7 linked regions of the Homo sapiens genome follow. The protein of the gene in region 1 purifies or fractionates together with the protein of each later gene. This does not show direct contact. Each region holds a gene or a part of one and is shown in the gene's direction. Other genes may lie near its edges. The genes, in order: ADIPOR2, UBAC2, POR, RAP1B, RDH11, SLC27A2 and LEMD3.

Evidence for each region.
Region 2: the proteins of ADIPOR2 (region 1) and UBAC2 purify together in Homo sapiens (affinity purification with mass spectrometry, with the first as the bait; one study listed by BioGRID). This does not show direct contact.
Region 3: the proteins of ADIPOR2 (region 1) and POR purify together in Homo sapiens (affinity purification with mass spectrometry, with the first as the bait; one study listed by BioGRID). This does not show direct contact.
Region 4: the proteins of ADIPOR2 (region 1) and RAP1B purify together in Homo sapiens (affinity purification with mass spectrometry, with the first as the bait; one large-scale study listed by BioGRID). This does not show direct contact.
Region 5: the proteins of ADIPOR2 (region 1) and RDH11 purify together in Homo sapiens (affinity purification with mass spectrometry, with the first as the bait; one study listed by BioGRID). This does not show direct contact.
Region 6: the proteins of ADIPOR2 (region 1) and SLC27A2 purify together in Homo sapiens (affinity purification with mass spectrometry, with the first as the bait; one study listed by BioGRID). This does not show direct contact.
Region 7: the proteins of ADIPOR2 (region 1) and LEMD3 purify together in Homo sapiens (affinity purification with mass spectrometry, with the first as the bait; one study listed by BioGRID). This does not show direct contact.

What each region holds. Positions count from the first base shown.
Region 1 is NC_000012.12:1,781,570-1,785,069, forward strand, and holds part of ADIPOR2 (adiponectin receptor protein 2), read left to right. Parts: intron 1-1,442; coding exon of another isoform or gene 1,443-1,541; intron 1,542-2,310; coding exon 2,311-2,504; intron 2,505-3,500. UniProt on the Homo sapiens protein: Receptor for ADIPOQ, an essential hormone secreted by adipocytes that regulates glucose and lipid metabolism. Required for normal body fat and glucose homeostasis.
Region 2 is NC_000013.11:99,242,354-99,245,853, forward strand, and holds part of UBAC2 (ubiquitin-associated domain-containing protein 2 isoform 1 precursor), read left to right. Parts: intron 1-1,478; coding exon 1,479-1,598; intron 1,599-2,161; coding exon 2,162-2,271; intron 2,272-3,500. UniProt on the Homo sapiens protein: Restricts trafficking of FAF2 from the endoplasmic reticulum to lipid droplets.
Region 3 is NC_000007.14:75,974,155-75,977,654, forward strand, and holds part of POR (NADPH--cytochrome P450 reductase), read left to right. Parts: intron 1-3,500. UniProt on the Homo sapiens protein: This enzyme is required for electron transfer from NADP to cytochrome P450 in microsomes. It can also provide electron transfer to heme oxygenase and cytochrome B5.
Region 4 is NC_000012.12:68,652,399-68,655,898, forward strand, and holds part of RAP1B (ras-related protein Rap-1b isoform 1 precursor), read left to right. Parts: intron 1-1,713; coding exon 1,714-1,854; intron 1,855-3,500. UniProt on the Homo sapiens protein: GTP-binding protein that possesses intrinsic GTPase activity. Contributes to the polarizing activity of KRIT1 and CDH5 in the establishment and maintenance of correct endothelial cell polarity and vascular lumen.
Region 5 is NC_000014.9:67,682,265-67,685,764, reverse strand, and holds part of RDH11 (retinol dehydrogenase 11), read left to right. Parts: intron 1-560; coding exon 561-750; intron 751-3,500. UniProt on the Homo sapiens protein: Retinol dehydrogenase with a clear preference for NADP. Displays high activity towards 9-cis, 11-cis and all-trans-retinol, and to a lesser extent on 13-cis-retinol.
Region 6 is NC_000015.10:50,234,196-50,236,885, forward strand, and holds the end of SLC27A2 (long-chain fatty acid transport protein 2), read left to right. Parts: intron 1-1,724; coding exon 1,725-1,901; 3' UTR 1,902-2,190; downstream 2,191-2,690. UniProt on the Homo sapiens protein: Mediates the import of long-chain fatty acids (LCFA) into the cell by facilitating their transport across cell membranes, playing an important role in hepatic fatty acid uptake.
Region 7 is NC_000012.12:65,218,083-65,221,582, forward strand, and holds part of LEMD3 (inner nuclear membrane protein Man1), read left to right. Parts: intron 1-469; coding exon 470-537; intron 538-3,500.

The sequences.
Region 1 (3,500 bases):
GGATAAAGGGGCTTTTTATATTTAGGATAATGCCTGTTTAGCTGGAGATCATAGAGAAAGCCACAAGCCCCTCAGTGCCTTGGCTGAGTCTTCTTGTAGGACATGGAATTAGCAGAGATGTTCTTGTCTCCTACTCAGTGTCAAGCTCAGTGCCCACTGAGAATGAACAAGGAGTGTTTTTCCTTTCGTCCTTAAACCCCCAAAACCATTTAGTATTAAAATCTAAACCCTGGATCATCCGGGGGTACCTGGAAGGTTAGACACAGAAGTAACCTCATGTCAGTGACCACTGTTAAAACACTCTGCCGTCCTCCTTTTTGTGTTCATATGAGCAAATGAGCATTGGTCAGGGTCAGCTTTCAACAGTACTTGAGTAGTACAGTGGTGTTAAGCCTGCTTGAGCACATGAGATAAGAATGTCTTTGCTGAGTACAGCTGAGCATTCTGTTATTTACATACATCAGAAGAACCAAATTCCTGAGCCTTTGACTTAGAGAATGATAGGCAGAAACCATTAGCAGCCTTTGCTTAGCATGTAGAGGAAAAGAAAAAGTGAATAGTGCAAAAGTCTAGCAAATCTTTCCTTAGAGGAGCAGAGGTAGGAAATAGTTTTTCTTTAGGTCTGCTTGGTTCTTACCTGTTGTGAGAGCAGCATTGCCATTTTCCTCTTCTCTTTTAGATGTCCATTTTATTTGTGAGTATGCATCCCATAGCTGTGCTTACATATATTGCTGTATACCAGCAGTTTATTTGGTAATGTCCAAAGCAAGTAATAGGTTCTTTATCTGTTGAGAAAGCTTACCAAATGACAGCTTGTTTTGCAAGGGTCATTGTTAACTCTGTGTCAAAATGTAGGAGCAGTTACTGGCAGAGGCAGGGAGCTCCTGTGTTGCTTTGGCTGATACACGGGTTTCAAAGTGGATTTAGATCAGTGGACTTCACATTTTTTTTTCCATCATGACATTTTCTATTACAGTCCTGAACACGTGTATCTATACATAAGTTCATGTATATATAAATTACAAAACTTTAACAAAATAGTATTTAATCCTCCACGTATGTTACAGTCTGATATTTTAAATTTTATTCTAGTTCATTTAAAAAAATGCTGGTTGAGACTCATTTAATTGATCTTAGAACTTAGGTCATATCCAGAAGTTTAAAAAAACATTAGATGCTTCTGGAGGCAGTAAGGCAGTAGGGCTGTGGCTGAGTGATTTGCTAGACTTTTGTACTTGATTGCTATTTAGGGGTCTGGGAGCTTATAGTATTCTCTCCCATCCCCCACCCCCATTAGGTCATTTGTTAAAGGCATTTAACAATTTTTAAGTGCCCAGTTATAGGTTATAGATTTAGATTAAATTTTTTCTTCTTTTTTCTTTTCTTTTCTTTTTCTTTCTTTCTTTCTTTTTTTTTTTTTTTTTTTTTTTTTTGAGATGGAGTCTTGCTTTGTAGCCCAGGCTGGAGTGCAGTGGTGCCATCTTGGCTCCTGACCTCAAGTGATCTGCCTGCCTCGGCCTCCCAAAGTGCTGGGATTACAGGTGTGAGCTGAGCCACTGCGCCCAGCCTTAGATTCCTATTAAAAATAGGTGATGCCAGGTGATGTGATCATTCATCGCCTCTCCACCCCAACAACGCCTGCTGCTTCAAAGAGAAGATGGGATACGTAAAATTGCTTGTATTGTAACCTGTGTCTGTAGAAGGACAGGCTAGGACAGTTTAAATAAACTCCTGGAGCTGTCCTTTCCGAAAACATTTAGCAACATTAATTCAAAACCCTTGAAGACTGCTGACTTACTAAGCTAAGCCTCTCTTAGTGAGGCTCATTGCTTTTTTTTTTTTTTTTTGAGACGGAGTTTCACTCCTGTTGCCCAAGCTGGGGTGCAATGGCGTGATCTCGGCTCACTGCAGCCTCTGCCCCCGGCTTCAGGTGATTCTCCTGCCTCAGCCTCCCGAGTAGCTGGGATTACAGGAGTGCGCTACCACGCCTGGCTACTTTTTGGATGTTTAGTAGAAATGGGGTTTCACCCTGTTAGCCAGGCTGGTCCCAAAGTGCTGGGATTACAGGTGTGAGCCACTGCACCCGGCTGGCTCCTTGCATTTGTAAATCTTTAGAACATAGCTGTGTTGTCTTGTGTGACAGTGTCCCAGAGTTTGAAGAACCTTCTTTTTCCTTTAAAACTGGAAGCTAATTTTATATGCTACTTTGAAATATTCAGTTTACAGAGTTAATGGTGCTGTGCTGTAATACTGACTTCTGGCTCTTTGTTTCTCTTCTGCATTACTTTACTCTCTTCTTGTGACTCCTAGGAGTGTTTTTGGGCCTAGGCCTGAGTGGAATCATTCCTACCTTGCACTATGTCATCTCGGAGGGGTTCCTTAAGGCCGCCACCATAGGGCAGATAGGCTGGTTGATGCTGATGGCCAGCCTCTACATCACAGGAGCTGCCCTGTATGCTGCCCGGATCCCCGAACGCTTTTTCCCTGGCAAATGTGACATCTGGGTAAGTATGTCGGGGTGACTGAGTGTGTAGGTATCTGCTCATGAGTTATTGGCATCCTGCAGAGTGATGCAATAGAAAAAGTTTTAGACACAAAGTCAGGAGAGTTGTATCCTGGTCCTAACTCCCTATTGAGCTTTCTCTGGACAATAAGTACAATAATAACTAACATTTAGTGAGCACTTCCTTGGTGCTCAGCATGGTACAGAGTGCTTTGCACGGATTACCTCATTACATACATTAGCCCTATGTGGTATGATAACTCTTGTTAATGTCTTCATTTTACAAAGCAGGAGACTAAGGCTTAGGGAGGTGAGGCCACTTGTCCAAGCCATGTGGCTATTTAAGTGGTAGAACAGGAATTTGAATTAGGCTAGTTTTAATATCAGAATCTGTGCTCTTTTTGACAATGGCAAGTCATTTTGCCATTCTTTGTCTCAGTTTCCTTATTTATGAAATGAGGATGATAGACCAGATTTTCACCAGAGCCCTTTTTAGGACCAGATTTCTATCAGGGTCTTTTTTTATACCGAAATTTAGTGATTTGTAATGGGAGACTGAGTGTATGTATGTCTGGTGGAAGAAGAGGGATTGTGAAGAAGAGGGAACTGGATTGAACTGGATTGTGGTCATTGGTAAGAGAGGAGGAAAGAGAAGAGGGAAAAGAAAATATAAGGACTGATATAGATAGAAAAACTTATAACCAAAGAGGGCCTGAAATATTTTCAACAAGACAACATTGGAAATACGCTTAATGTGAAATCTGACCTTTGTAATTCTGTTCCTCAGCCTATTGCTGATTATTATAGACTAACCTGATGATCTCATCTCTTTAAAGTTTAGTTTAGCTATCTGTAAAATGAAGATGATCTTGAACTTAAGCAATCTTTCTAGCTTCAAATTAGCTAATTTATCTTTCTGATTCATCATCATCATTTTAACATTGGTATGGAGGGGTTTTTGCCCTTTATCCCCTTTCTTTGGGGGAAATTAATCCCC
Region 2 (3,500 bases), on another chromosome or scaffold:
ACGGGGCGGCTGTCCGGGCAGAGGGGCTCCTCACTTCCCAGTAGGGGCGGCCGGGCAGAGGCGCCCCTCACCTCCCAGACGGGGCGGCTGGCCGGGCGGGGGGCTGACCCCCCCACCTCCCTCCCCGACGGGGCGGCTGGCCGGGCGGGGGGCTGCCCCCCCCACCTCCCTCCCGGACGGGGCGGCTGTCCGGGCAGAGGGGCTCCTCACTTCCCAGTAGGGGCGGCCGGGCAGAGGCGCCCCTCACCTCCCAGACGGGGTGGCTGGCCAGGCGGGGGGCTGACCCCCCCACCTCCCTCCCGGACGGGGCGGCTGGCCGGGCGGGGGGCTGACCCCCCCCACCTCCCTCCCCGACGGGGCGGCTGGCCTGGCCGGGGCTGACCCCCACCTCTCTCCCGGACGGGGTGGCTGCCGGGCGGAGACGCTCCTCACTTCCCAGACGGGGTGGCTGCCGGGCGGAGGGGCTCCTCACTTCTCAGACGGGGCGGCCGGGCAGAGACGCTCCTCACCTCCCAGACGGGGCGGCGGGGCAGAGGTGCTCCCCACATCTCAGACGATGGGCGGCCGGGTAGAGACGCTCCTCACTTCCTAGATGGGATGGCGGCCGGGAAGAGGCGCTCCTCACTTCCTAGATGGGATGGCGGCCGGGCAGAGACGCTCCTCACTTTCCAGACTGGGCAGCCAGCAAAATTTTAACTTTTATATCTGTTTTACCACAATAAAAATACAAAGAAAAGTTGGAATTAATATTTGTTTTACCTATCTCATAAGGTCATTGTGAAGGGGAAATAAGATTAGGATGTTTGAGATGTCATTGGGATTATCTTTAAAAATCTGAAAAATGTTTAAGCAGACTCAAAAATAGGCCTTTGAGTAGCTCTTTTTTTTTTTTTTTTTTTTTTGTATGTCCCCTTATATGTTTTTTATGCAGCCAGAAGTTGGGTGAAACAATGATTTAAATAAACTAATATTTCAAACCTAGTCATATTTAGCAGCAGTTGCCATAAATTACTTTGCATAGTTGCTATGAAGTAAGTTGATGATTAAAATTAAGCTCAGAAATGCATATTTTTGAGTTTATACCTAAGTTGTTTTTCAGTTACAACTTTGTCTTATTCAATAACATAAAAATGAACATTTGTTAGCCTTTCATTCTAGTTTACGTATATAATTTTAAAAAATCTTACTAAACGTGATCCTGAAATTTCTTATAGGCAGTTTTCTGTTATCTTAATGAGAATATGTTTTCTTATAAGCACAAAAAAATTCAAGTACCTTTCGTGCCACTGTTGGGAGGAATTTTTACTATGAGAGACTTGAGCTCAGAGAACATACATATATAGTTTTCCTTTGGTGTGTGCATTATGATTTTGTTTAGGACATTAAAAATAGGCAGTGTAAACATAACAAATTTGCTAAGGAAGAGACCCGAACAAATTTTACTCTTGTTTATTGTTCTTTTTTAAATCCCCATCTAGATTTGGAGGTTGATATGTGGAAGAATAATTTGCCTTGATTTGAAAGATACTTTCTGCAGTAGTCTGCTTATTTATAATTTTAGGATATTTGAAAGAAGATATGGAAGCAGAAAATTTGCAGTAAGTTTTTATGTATTTTGTCTTTGCTACTTAGGCTGTAGAAAAAAATTTTGTTTAAATGGATTTTATTTTGTTAAACTTGGTGTTGTTATTTACAGTTATCTTTTTAATTACACTATTCTGTATCTGATTTGAGGCACATGGACATTAACCAAAGAAAATTTTAAAATGTAAGACATTAGCATAATAATAATAGTGATAATGATAATATGTAGTATTAGTTGTGAACACTAATACAAATTTTAATACTTTGACTTTAATAAAATTATAATTTATTTTGCTTAGTGGTTTGTGTTTTACTTGTTAAAAATATATCTTCAACATACTTAAAAATTATGGCTGTTAATACATTTGAGCAATATGGGTTTACCCCGCCCATTTTCTAAAGTCTATTTTAATAAAAACAAATAATTTCAAATATATATACACACATATGCATGTGTGTATATACACACACACACATACATATGAATACACACCTCTGAGCTGATTCTAGCTGAATAAATGTTAGTTTATTTTTAGGAGACTCATCTCTATCATTTTTCTGCTGTTTTATTTTGTAGTCCTTTTTGCTGGGTTCCTGGGTTTTGTCAGCCTTATTTGACTTTCTCCTCATTGAAGCTATGCAGTATTTCTTTGGCATCACTGCAGCTAGTAATTTGCCTTCTGGATTGTAAGTAGCACTTAAAGATTGACTTAATTTAGAACTACTTGAATCTGATTTAAAGTGTTATTATTATTATGTGAAAGTCAGTAAAATAATATTTTAAACTTCTAGATATAGTTAAATTGATTTTATATGTAAAAAGTCTAATCTATGCCTACATTTTTATTATGTTCTTGAAATAGAATCAATTTTATATTCTTTCTTTAAAATTTATTTTACTTTTTTTTTTTTTGAGACGGAGTCTCGCTCTGTCACCCAGGCTGGAGTGCATTGGCACGATCTCGGCTCACTACAACCTCCGCCTCCCGGGTTCAAGCGATTCTCCTGCCTCAGCCTCCCAAGTAGCTGGGACTACAGGCACGTGCCACCATGCCTGGCTAATTTTTGTATTTTTTAGTAGAGACAGGGTTTCACCATGTTGGCCAGGCTGGTCTTGAACTCCTGACCTCAGGTGATCCACCCGCCTCGGCCTCCCAAAGTGCTTGAGCCACTGTGTGAGCCACCTTGCCCAGGCACCTTCTTTTTTTAGCTTTGAAAGTTTGTGTTTTAGAGAATTTTAAGTGAATTTCCTATTCTGATCCTGATAGAATTAGTTTTGTGTGTTTTTATAGTGAAATTTGTCTTTGTAATTTTATGAACTAAACACAAAAATATAGTTTAATTAGATTAGGAAACAAAATTAATTTGTACGAAGTTAAGCTTCTGAAGAATAATTTTTTAAAAGCTGATAATGTTTAAACACTTCCATCAAACATAAAACAAAGCCGGTGTATAGGTTATAACTTTGTAGACAACCTGCCGTGGCCAACCCCACTCAGAATTTGTATGCTTTCATATTGCGTTGATCTTCTTTAAAAAAAACAAAAACCATGTATTAGTGTGTGAAATAACTAGAATCTAGGAGTAGAGTTGACAGAACGAGACTCCATCTCAAACAAACAAACAAAAAAACAGGCCGGGCGCGGTGGCTCATGCCACCTTTGGGAGGCCGAGGTGGGCGGATCACGAGGTCAGGAGTTCAAGACCAGCCTGGTCAATATGGTGAAACCCCATCTCTACTAGAAATACAAAAATTAGTTGGGCGTGGTGGCACGTAGTCCCAGCTGCTCAGGAGGCTGAGGCAGAAGAATCACTTGAACCCGGGAGGCAGAGGTTGCAGTGAGCGGAGATCGCTCCACTGCACTTCAGCCTGGGTGACAGAGTGAGACTCCGCCTCAAAAAACAAACAAAATACC
Region 3 (3,500 bases), on another chromosome or scaffold:
GCTACTCTTTGGCTCTTACCAACAATGTCACTGTGAATATGTAGCTCGGTTTGCACATTTCAAATACAAAGCAGTCCCAGAAGTGGAATTGCTGGATTGGAAGGTAGATGTGTTTGCAATCGTGATAGAAGCTACAAATCGTCCCCGTAGGAGTCACACCGTGGCACGCGCTCAAGAATAGCGACGTGTGAGAAAACTGTTCCCCACAGCCTTGCCAACAGTTTGTTATTAAAGTTTAGATTTTTGTCAGTTTTCTAGGCTTAAAAAAAAAACTCAGTATAGTTGTAATTTACATTTTTATGAATGAGATTCAGTAGATTTTCACCCACCTAGGTCTAGATGGCTTCGTTTCTTTTTCTTTTTTCTTTTCTTTTTTTTTTTTTTTTTTTTGAGACAGGGTCTCGCTTTGTTGCCCAGGCTGGAGTGCAGTGGTGTGATCTCAGCTCACTGCAATCTCCACCTCCCGGGTTCAAGCAATTCTCATGCCTCATTCTCCTGAGTAGCTGGGATTACAGGTGCGTGCTACCATGCCTGGCTAACTTTTGTATTTTCAGTAGAGACAGGGTTTTGCCATGTTGGCCAGGCTGGTCTCGAACTCCTGACCTCAGGTCATCCACTCAACTTGGCCTCCCAAAGTTCTGGAATTACAGGCCTGAACCACCGCACCCAGCCTCTTTTTTCTTTTTTTAATAGATTCTCTCTTCACATCTTTTGCCTGCTTTTCTGTTGGGATTGATCTTTCTCCTTGAAATTATTAGGGAGATGAATCTCTTGTCTGTGATATAAGTTGAAAATATCTTGCCCGTTAAAGAGTTTGTCTTTTAGTGAGATTCCATCTCTTAAAAAAAAGTTTGTCTTTCAACCTAGCTGATCGCATTTTTATTTGTTTTGCTGTGTAAAAGTTACAGAGTCACCTATATGATTCTTTCTTTTCGTGACTTCTGGTCTTAGAGTCATAATTTGAAGGTCTTCCCCATGCTAAAGAGATAAAGATATTCCTGTATTTTTTTTTTCTAGTACTTTTAGGGTTTTGTTTTTCATATTCAAAATTTAAAATCTGATCTATTGGGAATTTATCCTGATGTAAGATGTGAGGTATGAATCCAACTCTACATTTTACATAGCTGTCTAAACACCATGTATTAGAGTCCATCTTTCCCCCACTGGTTTGAAATGCCACCTTTATCATATACTTAATTCCTGGGCTGGGCGCAGTGGCTCATGCCTGTAATCCCAACACTTTGGGAGGCCGAGATGGGCAGGTCGCTTGAGCCCAGGAGTTTGAGACCAGCCTGGGCAACATGGCGAAACCCCATCTCCACAAAAAATAGAAAAATTAGTGGGACACAGTGGTGCGCACCTATAGTCCCCGCTACCTGAGAGGCTGAAGTGGGAGGATAGCTTGAGCTTGGGAGGCACAGATTGCAGTGACCACTGGACTCAAACCTGGGCAACAGCTACACCCTGTGTCAAATAATAATAATAATAGCTGGGTCTCTGGGTTCTTTTCACTGGGCGCAACGTGTTCAAGGTTCACCCACACTGTAGCATATGTTAGTACTTCCTTTTTATTGCCAAATAATGTTTTAATATATGGATTCTTACTTATTTTTCCGTGACTTTTAGGATCAATTTGTTGAGGAAAAAAAAGCTGTTCAGATTTTTTTTTTTTTTTTTGGTAGAGACTGGGTCTCACTCTGTTGCCCAGGCTGTTCTCAAACTCCTGGGCTTAAGCAGTCCTCCTGGTGTGGCCTCCCAGGGTACTGGGATTACAGGTGTGAGCCACTGCACCCAGCTGGTTCAGATTTCTATTACATCATGCCACATTTCTCTAGTGACATAAATAGAGCTGCCATTTTTGTGGGTCGAGACTCCCTGTCCATAATCGGGGTGCTTTTCCATTGGCGTGAGTCCTTTGTGTGTAGTTCAGTAGCTTCTGACACATCTCTTACAAAGTTTATTTCTAGGTATTTTATATATTTTGATGCTCCTGTAAATATTTAGCTGCTATCTTAGGTCATCTTTTGTTCTCTTAACCTGATAATCATGAGCACTTTCTCTTCTATTAAGTATTTTTACGGTGATTATTTTAAAATATCCTTTTGGGCGAAAACCCTGTCTCTACTAAAAATACAAAAATTAGCCGGGCGTGGTGGCATGCACCTGTAGTCCCAGGTACTCGGGAGGCTGATGCAGGAGAATCACTTGAACCCGGGAGGCGGAGGTTGCATTGAGCCAAGATCGCACCACTGCACTCCAGCCTGGCCAACAGAGCAAGATTCCATCTAAAAAAAAAAAAAATCCTTTTGGCCGGGTGCAGTGGCTCATGTCTGTAATCCCAGCACTTTGGGAGGCTGAGACGGGCGGATCACCTGAGGTCAGGAGCTTTGAGACCAGCTGGACCAACATGGTGAAACCCTGTCTCTACTAAAAACACAAAAAATTAGCCAGGCATGGTGACGGACACCTGTAATCCCAGCTATTCAGGAGGCTGAGGCAGGAAAATCGCTTGAACCCAGGAGGCAGAGGTTTCAGTGAGCCGAGATCGCACCACTGCACTCCAGCCTAGGCGACAAGAGCAAAACTCTGTCTCAAGAAAAAAAAAAACAATTTTTAATGATTTAACAATGATTTGTGGAAAATTCAGGAACTTTAAAAAGTATAAGAACATTTATTGTAATCCCTAAGTTTTTTTTGGTGGTGGTTTTGTTTTGAGACTCAGTCTCACTCCTGTCACCCAGGCTGGAGTGCAGTGGCTCAATCACAGCTCACTTCAGCCTCAACCTCCCAGGCTCAAGTGATCCTCCCACCTCAGCCTCCCAAGTAGCTAGAACCATAGGCATGCGCCACCACACCCAGATAAATTTTTTGTATTTTTAGTAGAGACAGGGTTTTGCCATGTTGCCCAGGCTGGTCTCAAACTCCTGGGCTCAAGTCATCCTCTTACCTCGGCCTCCCAAAGTACTAGGATTACAGAAGTGAGCCACGGCACCCGGCCGCGTAAGTTTTATTTTGTATGAGGTGGGATTCAGTGTGAAAACTAGAGACTACTTTAGGCATTTTAATCTGGAAGGGATTTCACACAGGGAAGGGGGTACTTCCAGGTTACTGGAGGGGCTGAAGGAGCAGGTTGGTCTCTAAGATATCACAGAAGCAACCTGCAAGGTAGCTGCTCTGTTCGAATGCAGCCTGAAACTGTTGAGTTCAGGACACACCACGTGTAGCTGTGATCCAGGATAAGAAGCTACTTCTACAGCTGCCTCTGAACATCACATAAGCCAGTAGCCAGGACTAGGAACTTGCAGTCTGGCTACCAAAACTATTAGAAATACCTCAGGTGGCTGGGTGCGGTGGCTCACGCCCGTAATCCCAGCACTTTGGGAGGCCAAGGTGGGCAGATCACCTGAGGTCAGGAGTTCGAGACCAGCCTGGCCAACGTGTTGAAACCCAGTCTCTACTAAAAATTCAAAAAAATTAGCCTAGCATAGTGGTGGGTGCCT
Region 4 (3,500 bases), about 67 Mb from region 1:
CTGTGGAGATTGTGCCACTGCATTCCAGCCTGGGTGACAGAGCGAGACTCTGTGTCAAAAAAAAACATAAGACTACTAGTTGCTAAACTTTAAATCTTTTTGTTGTTGTTCCGTTGAATCCTTAATTTTATATTGGCCGGGCGCAGTGGCTCACGCCTGTAATCCCAGCACTTTGGGAGGCCAAGGTGGGTGGATCACTTAAGGTGAGGAGTTCAAGGCCAGCCTGGGCAACACAGTGAAACCCCGTATCTACTAAAAATATAAAAAAAATTAGCCGGGCGTGGTGTTACACACCTGTAATCCCAGTTACTTGGGAGGCTGAGGCAGGAGAATAGCTTGAACCCGGGAGGCGGAGGAAGTATATTGCACTTTTTGTAATTGCAGTGGGTCAGTTATTGAAAAGTTTAGAAAATGTGTTAGAAGAAAAATTTTCAGTCTCACTAGTACTTTTAAAACAATATATTACCATATTTCAAATAATACAGGCATACATTCATTCATCAGCAGCTGTGTGAAATATTTTGATTGAGCTGGGTATGATGGCTCATGCCTTGTAATCCCAGCACTTTGGGAGGTCAAAGGGGGGTGGATCACCTGAGGTCAGGAGTTCAAGACCAGCCTGGCTAACATGGTGAAACCCGTCTCTATTAAAATACAAAAATTAGCCAGGTGCAGTGGCAGGCACCTGTAGTCCCAGCTACTCGGGAGGCTGAGGCAGGAGAATCGCTTGAACCCTGGAGGTAGAGGTTGCAGTGAGCTGATAACACACCACTGCACTCCAGCTTGGGTGACAGAGTGAGACTCCATTTCAAAAGAAAAAGAAATATTTTGATTGGTATCTGTTCTCCTTCAACGTATTTATAGACAAACTAAATTTGTAGGTATGTGAAGATGAAGGGAAGATTTGTTCTCGGTGTATGGTATTCATTCAGCTAATGTTTGAATACCTGATACATGTCAGGCACTGTGTTGTTACCTTCAAATGCTCACAGTCTAGCAAAGAAAAAGTAGTGTGGGAAAATGGGATGGTCTAGATCATGCTGATGGAGCCCTACAGAACTACAGCATTTGAGTCATAGCTAATAGATTAACTTGGCAGATACAGTTGGGGTGCTTTATACATGATGATGTATTTTAAAAGCTGCCTTTAGTAACTTTTGGGGACAGGATATTTCTGTTCCACTTGAGTATATTTTTTGTATATAAATCGACTTTGGTGTATTGTTTTTAAATAGGAAACCTATTTCCAGCTGGGCGTGGTAGTTCACGCCTGTAATCCCAGCACTTTGGGAGGCCGAGACGGGCAGATCACAAGGTCAGGAGATGGAGATCATCCTGGCTAACATGGTGAAAGCCCGTCTCTACCGAAATACAAGAAAAAAATTAGCCGGGCATGGTGGTGTGCGCCTGTTGTCCCAGCTACTCGGGAGGCTGAGGCAGGGGAATCACTTGAGCCCGGGAGGCAGAGGTTGCAGTGAGCCGAGGTCGCGCCACTGCACTCCAGCGTGGTGACAGAGCAAGACTCCGTCTCAAAAAAAAAAAGAAACTAAAATGCCAATTTTTTCAAATAGTATCTTGTCATAGATTATAATTTTAACAAAGTTACATAATACTACAGTATTCTTCATTGAGCTATAATTATAGACTGTGAAAATTGTAAAAATAACTGTCAAAACATTATTGTTTTTTAACGTTCCTTTCTTTCTATTGTAGGAGCAATTTACAGCAATGAGGGATTTATACATGAAAAATGGACAAGGATTTGCATTAGTTTATTCCATCACAGCACAGTCCACATTTAACGATTTACAAGACCTGAGAGAACAGATTCTTCGAGTTAAAGACACTGATGATGTAAGCTGACTTCCAAATAAATATATTTTATTTCAAAACCCTGATTATAATTGTTTAAGTCTAAATTTAAATTCATTTTAAAGCTTGTGTATTTTGGTTGGGGGGGGGGTGTTGGTTTTTTTAAACTTTTTCCTTGAAAGGCAAAAATACCCATACATGTTTTCAAATATATATCATGTGGAAAGTGAGAAATTTCCTCCTTTGCCATTATCCTGTGAAAATTAAATGTTACACCCTTCCTTTTTTTTTTTTCCTTTGAGATGGAGTCTTGCACTGTTGCCCAGGCTGAAGTGCTGTGGTGCGATAGCTGTACCTCCCGGGTTCACGCCATTCTCCTGCCTCAGCCTCCCGGGTAGCTGGGACTACAGGCGCCTGCCACCATGCCCAGCTAGTTTTTTGTATTTTTAGTAGAGACAGGGTTTCACCATGTTAGCCAGGATGGTCTCGATCTCCTGACCTTGTGATCCGCCTGCCTCAGCCTCCCAAAGTGCTGGGATTTTAAAGGCAAGAAATACATTAGATTCTAACATTATTAATTTAGGTGCCCCTTCAGAGTCTACCATAATGGAGTTTAATTCCTCATCACACTAAATATAGCAGTGGTTCTCAAAATTGATTTTGCATCAGAATCACCTGTAGGACCAGTTAAAACAGATTGCTGGGCTGAGATCTCAGAGCTTCTGATTCAGTAGGTCAGCAGTAGGACCCAGGAATTTGCATTTCTAACAAGTTTCGAAGTGGTGTTGGTTTTGCTGATCTGCATACTGTAAGAACCAGGCTGGGCATGGTGGCTCACACCTCTAATCCCAGCACTTTGGGAGGCCAAGGCGGGTAGATCCCCTGAGCTCAGGAGTTCAAGACCTCCCTGGGCAACATAGCAAAACCCTGCCTTTACCAGAAATTTAAAAAAAAAAAAATTAGCCAGCATGGTGGCGCGTGCCTGTGGTCTCAGCTATTTGGGAGGCTGAGGTGGGAGGATCACTTAAGCCTGGGAGGTGGAGGTTGGCAGTGAGCTGAGATCACATCACTGCACTCCATCTAGGGTGACATAGTGAGACCCTGTCTCAAAATAAATACATAAATAAGACTCATTGTACTGCAGTTTAATTTTAGCAAATATTGTGAGAGCTGGGAGACACCCATGGTAAATGCTTTTATTTTCTGGACTTCTGAAACAAGGGAATTTGGGGGGACCCTACATAATTACAGCAACCTCAGGGAACATTTTTTAATTTGTAAATCCATTTAATAAGTGGCTTGATTTTTAGTAAATTTTGATTGGCTTTTTTTTTTTTTTTTTTGAGACGGAGTCTCACCCTGTCGCCCAGGCTGGAGTGCAATGGCACGATCTCAGCTCACTGCAACCTCTGCCTCCCAAGTTCAAGCAATTCTCCTGTGTCAGCCTCCCAAGTAGCTGGAATTACAGGCGTGTGTCACCATACCCAGCTAATTTTTGTGTTTTTAGTAGAAACAGGGTTTCGCCATGTTGGCCAGGCTGGTCTCCAACTCCTGACCTCAGGTGATCCACCCGCCTCGGCCTCCCAAAGTGCTGGGATTACAGGCGTGAGCCACTGTGCCTGGCCTTGATTGACTTTTTTAATACAAGACTATGAGAAACTAAAAATTCTATTTTGGGAGCCTTCCGT
Region 5 (3,500 bases), on another chromosome or scaffold:
GCACCCCTGTAGTCCCAGCTACTTGGGAGGCTGAGGCAGGAGAATCGCTTGAACCTGGAAGGCAGTGGCAGAAGGAAGATCATGCCACTGCACTCCAGCCTGGGCAACACAGCAAGCCTGTCTCAAAAAAATGAAGGGGATGGGGTGGGTGTGGTGGCTCATGCCTGTAATCCTAATACTTTGGGAGGCCAAGGTGGGAAGATTGTTTGATGCCAGGAGTTCAAGACCAGCCTGGTCAACATAGGGAGACCCCATCTCTAAAAAAGAAGGGGGTGGTCAACGATGTTAAGTGCTGCTGAGAGGATGAGTCTTGGCTCTGCTGATTCCTGACTTGAGTTTCCAGTCAGAAATACACAGAGGTCCTTAGCACTGTCTACTCTAGAGCCTTCTTAGATCTGTGAGATGGAAGTATAAATTACTGTGAGCAGTACTTCTGATGTCACCATGGGCAAAAGAGTCCATATGTGAAGGTCACATGCTTATTTACATCCTTTTCTGTTTTGGGCTATTCTGCAAAATCAAGTCCTGTCTTACCCTCTCTTCATGCCACCCCCAACCAGGCTCTGGCGTTACGACGTATTCTGTACACCCTGGCACAGTCCAATCTGAACTGGTTCGGCACTCATCTTTCATGAGATGGATGTGGTGGCTTTTCTCCTTTTTCATCAAGACTCCTCAGCAGGGAGCCCAGACCAGCCTGCACTGTGCCTTAACAGAAGGTCTTGAGATTCTAAGTGGGAATCATTTCAGGTATGAATGTTATCTCTTTTTGCAGATGAGATTTATTGCTCAAAGGAGATAATTTGGGTTTGTCTGGGTATACCCTTTTTTAAAAGTACATTGTCTCATATAGCTTTTGTCTTTTAACTCTAGAGTTTTTACCTTTTAGTAGGGGAATTTGACTCTCTTTTGTAATAACTGCTACATTTGATTTTATGCCATCTTTTATACTGATAATTATGCATTCTGTTTGTTTTCTTCCTGTCTTTGTTATGTCAGTCCAGTTTTCTTTATTCTTTTTTGGATTCCTAATTCTATTGTTTTACATTAAAAAGAATTTAAAAAGAATTTGAGGCCAGGCGCAGTGGCTTACGCCTGTAATCTCAGCACTTTGGGAGGCCAAGGTGGGCAGATCACCTAAGGTCAGGTGAAACTCCGCCTCAAAAAAAAAAAAAAAGAATTTGAATCTGCATTTCTCTATTGTCCTCAGGATTGAAATACTATGGACTCCCCTCTCAAATAAGCGAAGACATTTAAAATGATTTAAATGTAGAGAATTTTGAATATAACACAGGGTTAGATAAAATAGTGCACTGAGCCTGCATATAATGGAGCCTCAGCTACCATTAACCCATGGCCAATTCTGCCCTATCCCCATTCTCTACCCCTTTCCATATTTTTCTTCTCCCATATTATTTTGAAGCAAATCCCAGGCATCACATAAGATCAAAATTTTAACATGTTTTTACCTCTACTTCAGGTTATTGTTGAAATGACCTGAAATTTTAAGGAAGTAGCTGAAAATAGCATTAAGATTGGAAAGAAAGGCAGACAGATTATGAGAGGCCTATAATGCCAGCCTTGTGGAGGAGCCCCAGAGTTGTTTCAGTAGACAGACAAAATCTGGTCTGTGCTTTAGCAACTTTGTTTCATGAATGAATAATTAACCTAGTGAGAGAGAGAGTTTCAGAAAGTTGTAATGAAAGGAATGGTAATGTGAAAGAGGCCCTGAAGCAGCAGAATTTTTATCACTGGATGATTAATTAAATGAGGGGATGAGGGAGGCTTTGCTAACCTGAATTTCAAGCCTGAATGAGGTTGATGATGACATTAACTAAGACAGCAGACATGGAAAAGTAATGTGTGGAACTTAGGGTTCTTGGATTCCAAAGCAGTTGAAAGGGACTTTGTCTAGCTTAAGCAAGAAGGAAATTTATTAAAATATTAGTAGGGAGAGGAGGGACCCCTAGGTTGAAAGGGAAGACTGAAGAGCCAGGCTAAGAAGTGTCAGAGTGGCAGTCAGCCAGCCGGGGCATTGCTGCTAGAGTGAGCGAATGCCAGCTATCTTTAGTGTTTAGGTTGTATTGCTTATCATCCATTCTCTAGGGAGGAAGCATTGGATCTCCTTCCTCCTATCCCTTCATTTTTACTCTTTTGATTAGAGGCAAACAGGGACTTTATTAATGCTCTCTTCAAACTATATTGAGGGGAAAAGGTGATTCTGCAGAAGGAAATCAGGTTGCTATTGCCGAAACAAAGTAGAATGTTCAGCCAAAGAGTAACAGTTGTCCACTGTGTAACAAACCTGGCTCTGTACATGTTGCATGTGTGTTATCTATAAGGCATGCAAGTAGAAATGTATAGCAGATAGTTGGAAATGTGGTTCTGAAGTATAAGAAGATAGATTTATATAGTATACTGGATTGATTTTCCAAGAGTGACTGGATTCTTCTTCCCTAGAGATTTTAAGAAAAAAAAAAATAACCCTTTATCTTGGTTTTGACTGAGTGGTTTAAAGAAAGTCAGCTCTAAATCCATAACTTACTATTGGATTGACTTTTGAAGAGCCTTTCCTGTGCTATGGATTCTTAATTCATTTTGAAGATCCAACAGCAGCCGTGTAGACCACCATCAAGAAATGAACATAAAAGTCTTTTGATTGAAGCCTTAAGATTTTTGCACTGGCTCTTCTTTCTGCCTGCAACCACTAGTCTGCTTTATGTCTCTAAGAATTTGCCTTTACTGGACATTTCATATAAATGGAATCATATGGTATGTGGCCTTTTGTGACTGACTTCTTTTACTCAGCTTAATGTTATCAAGGGTCATCCATGCTAAAGCATGTGTCAGTACTTCATTTCTTTTTATTGCTGGATAACATTTCATTGTATAGATTTGCCACATCTTATTTATTCATTCATCAGGTGATGGGCATTTGGGTTTGCACTTTTTAGCTATTTGAATAATACTGCTGTGACCATTTGTGTAGAAATTTTTGTGTGGACATTTCTCTTGGGTACATGGAAGTGGAATTTCTGGGTTATATGGTAACTGTGTTTAACTGCTGAGGAACTGCCAAACTTTTCCAAAATGACTGCCCCATTTTACATTCCCACCAGCAGTCTATGAGTATTCTAATTTCTTCACATCCTCAGCAACACTTGTTATTGTCTCTCCTTTTGAGTTTAGCCATCCTAGTGAGTATGAAGGAATATCTTGTTTTTATTTTCATTTCATTTTCCTACTAATGATGTTGAACATTCTTTCATGCGCTTTTTGGTTCATTTGTTTCTTTGTTGGGGAAATGTCTATCAAGTCCTTTGCCCATTTTTAAGTTGGATAATTGTCTTTTTATTGTTGAGTTACAAGAGTTCTTAATAGTCTAGATGCGAGTTCCTTGTCAGATATATAATTTGCAAATATTCTCTCATTCTGTGGGTTGTCTTTTAACTTTCTTAATGGTATCTTTTGAAATGTAAAACTTAAATTTTGATGAAGTC
Region 6 (2,690 bases), on another chromosome or scaffold:
AGCACTTTGGGAGGCCGAGGTGGGAAGATTGCTTGAGCTCAGGAGTTTGAGACCAGCCTAGGCAACGTAGTGAGACTTCATGTCTACTAAAAATGAAAATTTTTAAAAAAGGCCAAACGCGGTGGCTCACGCCTATAATCCTAACACTTTGGGAGACAGAGGCAGGTGGATCACCTGAGGTCGGGGGTTCGAGATCAGCCTGGCTAACATGGTGAAACCCGGTCTCTACTAAATAGACAAAATTAGCTGGGCGTGGTAGTGCATGCCTGTAGCCCCAGCTACTCGGGAGGCTGGGACAGGAGAATCGCTTGAACCTAGGAGGAGGAGGTTGCAGTGAGCTGGGATCACGCCACTGCACTCCAGCCTGAGCAATGGAGTGAGACTCCATCTCCAAAAAAAAAAAAAAAAAAAAAATTAGCCAGGCATGGTGATGTGCACTTGTAGTCTCATCTACGTGGGAGGCTGAGGCAGGAGGATTAGTTGAGCCTGGCAAATCAAGGCTGCAGTGAGGTATGATTGCACCACTGTACTCCAGCCTGGGCATCAGAGCAAGGCCCAGTCTAAAAAAAAATATATCAGAAAACAGCTAGAAGAAATCCAATCCTAATCCCTTTCTCCTTACAATGACAGGCCAGTTCATTCAGCAAGAGACTTAGCACATAACTCACAAAGTCTGTTTGGTGAGTCCTGACAGATAGCGCAAATAGAAATGCTCTGACCCTGTTTGTTGTTTCCAGTTTTAAAGAACACAGAAATCCACAGAAGTTCTACACCTTTCTGTGGTGTGAAATTTAATTGGACATTAGCCAGCTGGAATTGCCTAAGACTTAACTATCACCGCTAGGAGGATTTTTTTTCTTCCTCCAACATTAACCCTTTGGTTGGTTTAATACTCTCACTTTTAGACTTTGAGCTCTGTGATTCTGTAGCTGAAGACTTGACAAAGGAGGTCTTAAGATTCCAGATATTGTGTGTATAGGATTATTCCTGTTGATGTTCATAGGGCACCAACATTTGCTTTGCAACCAGATGGTAAAGTGGCATGAAAATGAAATATCCTCAGATATTTTGATTAACACATAATTGAAGGAAAAATCAGTCTTCAATCTAATCTAATAGACAAGCAGACTGAGAAAACAGAGTTGTCTGTAAATGATCCCTCCTTCTAATCCCACCATGAATCAGGATATCCTAGCGGTACCTGAAGCCTTACCAAGAAATAGGCACCACCCCTCTGCTCAGAAATCTATGCACAGGTATCTCATCCTTGGCAGGTCCTCCCTCCCCACAGGTGATCCTAAAGCTTTAAGGGAATAAAAAATACCTCACAAAGGGCTCCCTAATGGAGATCCTGCAAACAGAATGTATGGGTATCATATAAAACTTTCACTTCGCTAGAAAATGTAAAGAGTGGATGTTACTTGCCCCTACCACAAAAATGATATCTATATGAAGTAATCCATTTGCTAACTAGCCAAACTATTCCACGATGTATATGTACTTCAGCACATCATATTGTACATGAGAAAAACACACAATGTTATCTGTCCATTTAAAAATAAATTAAAATGGAAAACTTTATTTTAACTTTCACTTCCCAGCTCTCACATGAGCCAGGGATGCTAATGATTTGCTAGATCCCCATGCCCCACCCCTACCCCTTGCTCTGCATCCTAATCTATTGCAAAATGCAACCAAAATGTGGATTATTTGATGTTTTTCAGGACACCATTGAGATCACTGGAACTTTTAAACACCGCAAAATGACCCTGGTGGAGGAGGGCTTTAACCCTGCTGTCATCAAAGATGCCTTGTATTTCTTGGATGACACAGCAAAAATGTATGTGCCTATGACTGAGGACATCTATAATGCCATAAGTGCTAAAACCCTGAAACTCTGAATATTCCCAGGAGGATAACTCAACATTTCCAGAAAGAAACTGAATGGACAGCCACTTGATATAATCCAACTTTAATTTGATTGAAGATTGTGAGGAAATTTTGTAGGAAATTTGCATACCCGTAAAGGGAGACTTTTTTAAATAACAGTTGAGTCTTTGCAAGTAAAAAGATTTAGAGATTATTATTTTTCAGTGTGCACCTACTGTTTGTATTTGCAAACTGAGCTTGTTGGAGGGAAGGCATTATTTTTTAAAATACTTAGTAAATTAAATGAACACCAACATGTGAGATGGCACTGTCTCTGTGTTCTTTCCTCACTTTACTCTAAATACAAAGCCTGTGTCAATTACTCCAAAGCCTGAAGTCCTCACTGGTAACTTTTCATAGGTGTCCCATTCGTAAGAGTAAAGACGTTCTAGGTAAAAATGGCTGGGAACGGGGGGTGGGGTGAGGGATGGTAGGGTGAGGCGGCTAGATCAGCAGTGGCCAACACAATGGAAATCTACTCCAATGTGAGGAGGCCAACTTTCCCTACCCGGAGGCATCCTGTCCACTGTGTATAGGTAGCATTATCCAACAGGTAATAATGCCATCTATAGTCCTTACAGGAGCCTAATTCTATGGCATCAGAGTTCTGTACACAAAAGGTGTTCAGGCCGGGCTCAGTGGCTCACGCCTATAATTCTAGCACTTTGGGAGGCCGAGGCAGGTGGGTCACGAGATCAGGAGTTCAAGACCAGCCTAGCCAAGATGGTGAAACCCCATCTCTACTAAAAAAATACAAAATT
Region 7 (3,500 bases), about 63 Mb from region 1:
TATTTGAACCCTTAAATGATTAGCTTTAAGAATAGATGTGTAAGTTAAGTTAGCACAATGAATATGCTGAATTTTTTCCCTTTTAGGAATAATACATATTTCTGGAGGGCGTCTTGTGTGCCAAGATCTGTGGATAGGCATCAGTGTGACATAGTTCCTATACCAGCTTACAGTTTAGTTGGGAATATAAGAGGAAGATAAGTTCTTGTTTGGACTGAAATGCATTTAAAAGTTGTGGTTAATGTAATGGTAGTTGTTTGTTTATATTCTTACTGGAATTTCTTTGTTTATATTCTTACTGGAATTTCTTCTAGAAATTATAAATAATATTGTTCATGTTCTTTCTTTACTGATTATAATAATATAACCTGTAATTGTATAATGTATAAAATATTTGAATTAATTATGTTTGTTTTCTTCTGTTTAAGAGAGTACTGATTCAAAATTAATAATATGCTAATCTTTCCAGGAGATCATGAATGTGGCAGTTCTAGTCAAAGAACGCTTTCTGTTCAAGAGGCAGCTGCGTATTTAAAAGTAAGCAATGAAATTAGAATTTTAATAGCTATATTTTAAAAAATTATATAAATCATTGCTACTTGTAAGAATCATATGTTTGATTATTTTAATTGTACTGTTAAAAGCTTGGGCCTGCTGTTTGGTATAATATGAGCAGTTATGAGAAAGTAAAATTGTTCAACTTTTTTTTTTTTTTTTTTTTTGTGAGACACAGTTTCGCTCTTGTTCCCCAGGCTGGAGTGCAATGGCTGATCTCGACTCACTGCAACGTTCGCAACCGGGGTTCAAGCGATTCTCCTGCCTCAGCCTCGCGAGTAGCTGGAATTACAGGCACCCACCACCTCGCCCAGCTAATGTTTTTTGTATTTTTAGTAGAGATGGAGTTTCACTATGTTGGCCAGGCTGGTCTCAAACTCCTGGCCTCAAGTGATCTGCATGCCTTGGCCTCCCAAAGTGCTGGGATTATAGGCGTGAGCCACCTGTTCAATTTTTTTTAGTTTGTTTTAGAACATTCTCTATGAGAGAATGCATATTAATTTGGAAAGGGTACAAAGAAACATTGGTCATAGGGAAATTGAGATAGGTGAGTAGTAGCATGTAAGAGAGCAGGTAAATATCTAACCATTTATTTAAAATCTTCTGTCCCACATCAGTTTCTTCTCCAAATACTAAGAGAACTTGCTGTTGAATTTTCTAAACTACTGTAAATAATTTCTGGAAAATCTTAATGAAAGGTAGTAAAAGATTAAAGATGGATAAATGTCATTCTGATTTCTCAGAAGTGGAAAGTGGCATTTGAAAACCATACAGGAAAGCTTGTTGTCGGTCCAGTTCCATAAAGATAATTTCATAAAGATCTGAGTTCTTGCAAATGGAAACGTTGATCCCTGGAAGGTGGCTGGCATTTGAACGTGGACAAGTCATGCCATACAAATTTCATGCCTCCCATCCCCTTGTTAAAATTGTGGTAAAAAATATATAACGTGAAATCTGTTAACATATTTTTAAGTATACCGTACAACTATATGTGCATTCTTATACAGCAAATCTCTAGAACTTCTTCATCTTGTATGACTGAAACTCTATAGCCATTGCACAGCAGGCCCCCGTTTTCCTCTGCTCCATATCCCTGGCAACCACCATTTTACTTTCTTCCTCCATCAGTGTGATTAACAGATACCTCATATAAGTTGAATCCTGCAATTTTTGTCCTGTGACTGGCTTATTTCACCTAGCATAATATCTTCAAGTTTCATCCATATTGTAACATGACAGTACTTCCTTCATTTTTTAAGGCTGAGTAGAATTTCATTGTATGTATACATATATTTTCTTTATCCAGTCATGTTGATGGGCTTTTAGATTGTTTCCACCTCTTGGCTATTGTGAATAATTCATCAATGAACATGGCAATGCAAGTACTTCTTTGAGACTCTACTTTTAATTCTGTTAGACAAATACCTAGAAGTGGGATTGATAGATAATATGGTAGTTCAACTTTTTATTTTTTGAGGAACCTCCATACTGTTTTCATATTGACTGTACCATTTTACATTCTTTCCAATAGTATAGTAGGATTCCAGTTTCTGCCTATCCTTAACACTTATTTGCCTTATAGCTCACTGTGTTTTTATTTGTGTTTCCCTGATGATTACTGATGTTGAGCATCTTTTCATATACCATTTATATACATATACATCTGTGTGTATATATAGCATGTATACAGCATATATATAATACCTTATCTGTTGGCCATTTGTATATCTTCTTTGGAGAAGTGCTATTCAAGTTCTTTGCTGATTTTTAAGTTGGGTTATTTATTTTGTTATTGAATTGTGGGGGTTTCTTATGCATTTTGCATATTAACCCCTTGTCAGATATATGGTTTGCAAATATTTTCTCCCATTCTGTAGGTTACTTTTTCACTGTATTCACTGTTTTTTTTTACTGCACATATGCTTTTTAGTTTGATGTAGTCCCACTTTTCTGTTTTTGCTTTTGTTGCCTATGCTTTTGGTGTCATGTCCAAGAAATTATTGCCCATATCAACGTCAAGAAGCTTTTCTTCTATGTTTTCTTCAAGAAGTTATATAGTTTCAGGTCTTACATTTAAGTCTTTAATCCATTTGGAGTTGATTTTTGTGTACGGTATAAGATAAAGGTCCAGTTTGATTCTGTTGCATGTGGAAATCCAGTTTTCCTAGCACCATTTATTGAAGAGATTGTCATTTCTCCATTGTGTAGTCTGGCACCCTTGTAGAAGATTGTTGGATCATACATCAGTGGCTTTATTTCTGGTTCTCTATTTTGTTCCACTGGTCCATTTATGTCTATTATTATGCTAGTACTATACTGTTTTGATTACTATAGTTTTGTCATATGTTTTAAAGTCAGTGTGAGGCCTTTGTGGTTCCATATGGATATTAGGATTATGTCTTCTATTTCTGCAAAAAATGCTATTGGGATTTTGTATTGCTGTATTGCCTTCGGTGGTATAGTAATTTGAGTAATATTAAGTCTTCCAATTCACGAACATGAGATGTCTTTCTATTTATTTGTGTCTTTTATTTCATTCAGCTTTTTTTTTTTTTTTTGTAGTTTTCAGTGTATAAGTCTTTCACCTCCCTGGTTAAGTTTATTCCTAAGTATCTAAATCTTTCTAATGCTATTATAAATGGGATTATTTTCTTAACCTCCTTTTCAGATTGTTGTTAGTGTATAGAAATGTAACTGATTTTTGTATATTGATTTTATATCTTCCAACTTAGCTGAATTTGTTTATTCTAACAAGATTCTTTTTAGTAGAGATAGGGGCCTTGCTATGTTGCCCAGGCTGGTCTCAAACTCCTGGGCTCAAGTTATCCTCCTGCCTTGGCCTCCTAAAGCACGGATTACAAGCATGAGCCACCACACCCAGCCAAATAACAAGATTTTTTTGGTGAAATCTTTAGGGCTTTCTATGTATAAGATTATGTCACTTG